Regions from separate parts of the Homo sapiens genome. Here region 1 is linked to region 2. Evidence: fine-mapped expression QTL. A gene starts in region 2. The other region holds a variant in brackets. All regions are shown on one strand. Distances are from middle to middle.

The links. PIP is the estimated chance that this variant, and not a neighbour inherited with it, causes the effect. A credible set is the group of variants that fine-mapping cannot tell apart.
Region 1: its variant is the best candidate, but not a certain one, in a credible set for the expression of SNAP29 in whole blood (INTERVAL, PIP 0.53).

Annotation. Positions count from the first base shown.
Region 1 is chr22:20,818,831-20,821,330 of GRCh38, forward strand. PI4KA (phosphatidylinositol 4-kinase alpha) reads right to left here. Exons shown (of 55, transcript NM_058004.4): 5 at 1,709-1,781; 6 at 811-1,070. Among named protein-coding and RNA genes, the nearest start is that of PI4KA, 39 kb to the right of the region's middle. The variant C/T (reference allele first, on the strand shown) is at 1,326.
Region 2 is chr22:20,857,787-20,860,735 of GRCh38, forward strand. SNAP29 (synaptosome associated protein 29) reads left to right here and starts at 1,221. Exons shown (of 5, transcript NM_004782.4): 1 at 1,221-1,561. The coding sequence starts at 1,325. It overlaps PI4KA (phosphatidylinositol 4-kinase alpha), which reads right to left and starts at 1,025. Exons shown (of 55, transcript NM_058004.4): 1 at 784-1,025. The coding sequence starts at 939. RefSeq lists silencers at 634-683, 704-1,463 and an enhancer at 1,143-1,952.

The sequences.
Region 1 (2,500 bases), 39 kb before region 2:
CTTAAGGGCACCAACTGTCTTCCAGGCAAAATAGCATTTGGCACCCAACTGCTATGAAACATATACTTTATGACTATGAAATCACTTATAAATCTTATGTTGGGGACTAGCCTCAACACCACCTGTAGGGTATTTGATGTTTGGTGGCGACAAAGGAATGAGAAGAAACAGGTTAAGAGTTTATAAAGGCGGGAGCCAGGGGACCAGAGCAAATCAGAGGCCGCAAAGGCCTAGAGTTTTGGTTTTTACACTATTTATTGAGTATAATCACTTAGATTTAAGAAGCAGATGTTTAGGGCGAAACGGTGAAAGGGAGGCAGTGTGTCATATGTGTAATCTATAGTAGCGGCAGTTTAAATGAATTTTTTTTGTGTTTAAACAGTATATTTTCAACTTATTGGACAGCAGTTAGTGGGAGCAGGCTTAACTAGGAGTCTGTATGTTTGGCCATATTTTCATGTTTTAAAGGAGTGGTTTTTTTTTTTTTAACACAGTGTTTATGGATAAGAGAGTAAGTCTTGCTCAGAGTATGGGAACATAATGGCGATAAGGCTTTTTTTTTAGAGGCCTTTTGTGGCTTTTTACACCTCATTGTTTTATATTTTTATGGCCAGTTTATATGTGCACTCTATAAGCCCTTCCCCCCAACATCTTAAGAGGGACAAGACAAGTCTTTGTATTAAAGAGAATTCTAGTGAAACATTTCACGTTACTTAAGTTTACTCCAACTACAAAGAAGAGGGATTTTCTTCGCAGGGGAGCTTAACAGGGTCTTTCTCCTCTGCTCTTTCCCCAGTAGCCCAGGCCCACCTGAGAGATGCTGGACACACTGCTGGTTTTCCTCTTCAGGGTACCCTCCTGACAGACAGTCAGCAGATTGCTGGGGAGGATGGAGCGGAAGTCATTAAAGGAACGCCTTCGAACACCTTCAAGCTCTTCCAGGACACGGAGGGAATGAGGAGGGATTTTGGGAAAGAGCTTTGAGAGGAGAGACTCTTCCATGTTGCTGTAACGCCCAAATGCTCGCGAGATTCCTATCAGGCATGGGATAGCATACTTGCAAAGGTATTCTAGAAGATCAAGTGAAAACGTTACAATATAAGAAAGTATCCTGATAGAGTCATATAGTAAGTACTAACTTGTAACATTGACTAAGATTTCACAACCCACCCACTAATAACTGTGAAGGTTCACAATAAGCCACAATAATGGGGTCCACCCCAAGGGCTGACAAGTGATATCTTCAACCTGTCATTAACAACTTCAGACTATGACTTCAATACACCCAGCTGCCCTGCTTGGAAGGTCTTCATCTATTCATGGCA[C/T]ACCCAAATCAATAAAATAGCTAGGCCATATTATCAAGTACCTTATACATTTATTCCTCTTAGGAGCATATTGGTAGCCTCACAACACAGAAAAAATGACCTTTGGAAGTCAACTAATCTACCCACAGATGTTACAGGTGAAGAAACTGGGGCCCAGAAGGGTGAAGTTACTTGTCCAAGGTGACCCAGCGTCTATGTAGCAGAGCAATGCACATGACCCCATGTGGCCTCTGAGGATACTAACACACAACAAATCAAACTAAAATAGGAAGGTTTTCTCCCATCATATATATTAGGTACCCAACAACAGAAAAGACTGGAGAAAAGCAAGGGAAAGAGTAACCACAAAACCATTTTAAGAAAAACCTTAAGGATACTCGTACCTTTGTCTTGAATCTCCAAGGCCTGGCACATCCCCAAGAGGACATGCAAAACCTGCAAAAGCACCTCTAAAATCTGTAACAGTCAAGGAAACAAGAAAAAAAAAACATAAACAAAATTAGGTAAATATCACGAAACTAAGTCAGAATTAGAAGGCACTTCAGACATTATCTTAACCAACCCCATATATGATACATCCCTCCACAACGACTGTGCCAAGTGGCCAACCAGCTGACTTTCCAGGGACAAAACCCTCACTCTCTGGGCTGGTTCCGAGTTCCTCCCAATACTGGGCCAATGTTGTCCTCCTGGGGCTTGTACCTACCAGCCCTTGGGGCTGCTTTTTCCTCTATTAACATATTCTGTAAACAGGTGATGGGTCCCCAAATCTTCTCTTTTCATGGGTAAACGCCCTAGCGCTTTTCAACCGTATTCTTCATGATCATAAATCCTTTGTAATGCTAATTGCCAGCTTCTGATTTTACGGTAGTCCAGTTTTCTGTCTGGAAGTGTAGTGCTCAGAATAAAATACATTAACATCTGGGATGCTGGAACTCACCCAGCATACTCACCAAACTCATCACAGATTCTACACTTCTATGTATGTGACATTAGCTTTTCTGCAGCCACTTCACACTGCTTATGTGAAGCTCATCTCAATGAGCTTATACATAATTTTTAAATTTTTTTTATTTGTTTGAGACGAAGTTTCGCTCTTGTTGCCCAGGCTGGAGTGCAGTGGCATGATCTTGGCTTACTGCAACCTCCACCTCCCAGGTTCAAGCGATTCTCCT
Region 2 (2,949 bases):
AACAAATTCAGGTCCCACTCTAAAATCTGTCTCTTTCCAGATCTCAAGGCACACCACTGAGTTGCCTTTCACCTTTCTCCCAAGATGAGGATTGCTCTGGCATGACTTCACCTTTCTCTTCTGAAGCAATTCCAAGTTCACTTCTCTGCCCACTGACAGTTCACTCTCCTTTCCCTGCCACTGTCCCTTCTGCAAACGCACAATCTTTTACCCAACCTAACGCCCCCAGCCTCGTAGAATAACACTGCGCAGTTGGTTTACAGTCACAAAGCACTTTCAAGACAGTGTTTCGTCTCCTGGTCACCACAGTCCGGTGAAGCCGGCAAAGCAGATAAAAGCATCCCCATTTTACAAGAAAGCCATCTTCCCAAGGTCGCGGAATAAAAAGCAGGTGAAATCGGAAGCAGAACCCCAGGTCTTGACCCCTGGTCCTCGGCTCATCCCACTGCTCCGCACAGCCGCCCACGATCCAGCCTCCACCTCCGCGATGTCACAAGATGCTCCCTGGGCCAGCAGCTCACATCCCCCACCCCCATCCCACAACCACCCACCTGCAGCGGCCCTGCAGGCCCCGCCGACCCTTCCCCCACGGTCCCTCTCTCTTCACCAGCCCCTCCCACTAGGGCCTCCTTCCCCCGCTAGATCCCTCCGCTCAGGCGCCCCCTCCCGCACAGGCTGCCGGCGAGCCCAGCCTCGGCCTCCCACAGACCCTCGTCCCGCCTCCACGCTTCGTCACCCCAGCCCCTCCTCCTGTCAGCCCGCGGCCCAGCCCGCCGACGTTACCTTCTCCAAGGATGCTGGTCTCTGCACCGCCAGGGAGCGGGCCAGTGACAGGACCGTGTTGAAATAGAAGCCCCGCGAGGCGCTGGAGCCGGAGCCGGAGCAGCCGCCGCCGCCTCCGCCTCCGCCTCCGCCTCCCCGGGCCGGGGCCGCCGCCATCACCTCACGAGCCGCGGCGCTGCCCGCCGGCTCCCCGCTCCTGGCCCGCGAGCGCCCGACCTCAGGGCGCAGGCGTAGGTGCATCCGGCTTTCCCGCCACGTGACCTCTCAGTTGCTGACACTAGATAGGGCGTGGCTGCGGGGCGGGCCCACCGCTGCAGGGGAGAGAGGGGATGGACAGTAGGCTGCGGTTGCGCGCGCCGGATGTGGGCCCCCCCCAGCCGACCTGCGCGATGGTCGGCTCCGAGGGCGGGGCCACCTGCGCGCGACGCGCGGAAGGAGTTCGCGCGACGACCGCGGGGTCGGCGGGCGGGGCGAGGCCCTGGACGGCGGCGGCAGTGGGGCTCCTCCTTCTGTTTCCCAGACCGAGAGCCGCGCCGGCACCATGTCAGCTTACCCTAAAAGCTACAATCCGTTCGACGACGACGGGGAGGACGAAGGCGCCCGGCCGGCCCCTTGGAGGGACGCCCGAGACCTCCCCGACGGGCCCGACGCGCCCGCGGACAGGCAGCAGTACTTGCGGCAGGAGGTCCTCCGCAGGGCTGAGGCCACGGCCGCCAGCACCAGCAGGTCCCTGGCCCTCATGTACGAGTCCGAGAAGGTTGGGGTCGCCTCTTCCGAGGTGAGCCTGGGGCAGGGCTGGTGTGGACTCGCCGGTCTCTGTGCTGTCAAACGGAGACGAGAAATGTTTTGCTCACAATCTTTTGAGAATTCTCAAGTTGCCTAGCATAGATTCTTGCACCTTAGTGACTCGATGGTGGTAACAATCTGTTAACTATGTAAAGGTATGTGCATCTGGAGTACTTGAAGAGGGCAGTTTACCCCAGAAATCTTCCTTAGCTATTAGTCTGCTTCGTTGATTTTTTTTTTCTTACGCCTAGCTCACGGGGAAACGCCAGATTATTTTCTGTCCAGGTGAGTAAAAATTCTGAACAGCAGGTCCTAGGTTTGGGAAATGGAGAGTCCGTTTCTTCGACATTATTTCCTGTGCAAAATCTGGCACAGGGTTTTGGCCATTCCTTCCGGAGTGAGCCAGAAAGAGAGGACTATGTGCCTGCGAGTGTCAGGTGATACCCTGAAGCATCAGGGCAGGTGGTCCACGAGTTCTTCCCGCATCATTGACATCTCCACCTAACCAACCAATAGAGGTATTGAAGTCCCTTCAGCCCAGACAGCTGCCTAGTTGACCAAAGCCTGGGTTTGATTGAGTCCAGGGTCTTACCTTTACTTCCCAAATCCTAGACAAATAGTGTGCGGGTTAAGAGTTTGTTGCTCCAACTCATCTTCATCAGTTCTTCCCATCCTTAGATTTCAGAGAGTAGTACCTTCAATAACAATTATTCTGGCCGAGCGCAGTGACTCACGCCTGTAATCCCAGCACTTTGGGAGGCCTAGGCGTCGGATCGCCTGAGCTCAGGAGTTCGAGACCCGCCTGGGCAACATGGTGAAACCCTGTCTCCACTAAAATTAAAAAAAAAAAAAAACTAGCCGGGTGTGGCGGTGCGCCTGTAGTCGCAGCTACTCAGGAGGCTGAGGTAGGAGAATCGCTTGTACCCGGGAGGCAGAGGTTGCAGTTAGCTGAGATCGTGCTGCTGCACTCCAGCATGGGCAACAGACCGAGATCCTGGAGGGTCTTTTTCTTTTTCTTTTTTTTTTTTTTTTGAGATGGAATCTCGCTCTGTCGCCCTTGCTTGGGTACAGTGGCATGATCTGGGCTCACTGCAACTTCCGCCTCCGGGATTCAGACGATTCTCCTGCCTCAGCCTCCCGAGTAGCTGGGACTACAGGTGCGCCGCCACACCCGGCTAATTTTTTTTGTATTTGTAGTGGAGACAGGGTTTTGCCCCGTTGGCCAGGCTGGTCTGGAACTCCTGACCTCAGGCAGTCCGCCCGCTTTGGCCTCCCAAAGGGCTGGGATTACAGGCGTGAGCCACCATACCGGTCGAGAATGATTCTTTATTGTACACCACAGTCTCTCTTCAGCCTGCTAATGAAACAGTTTTGTTTGGA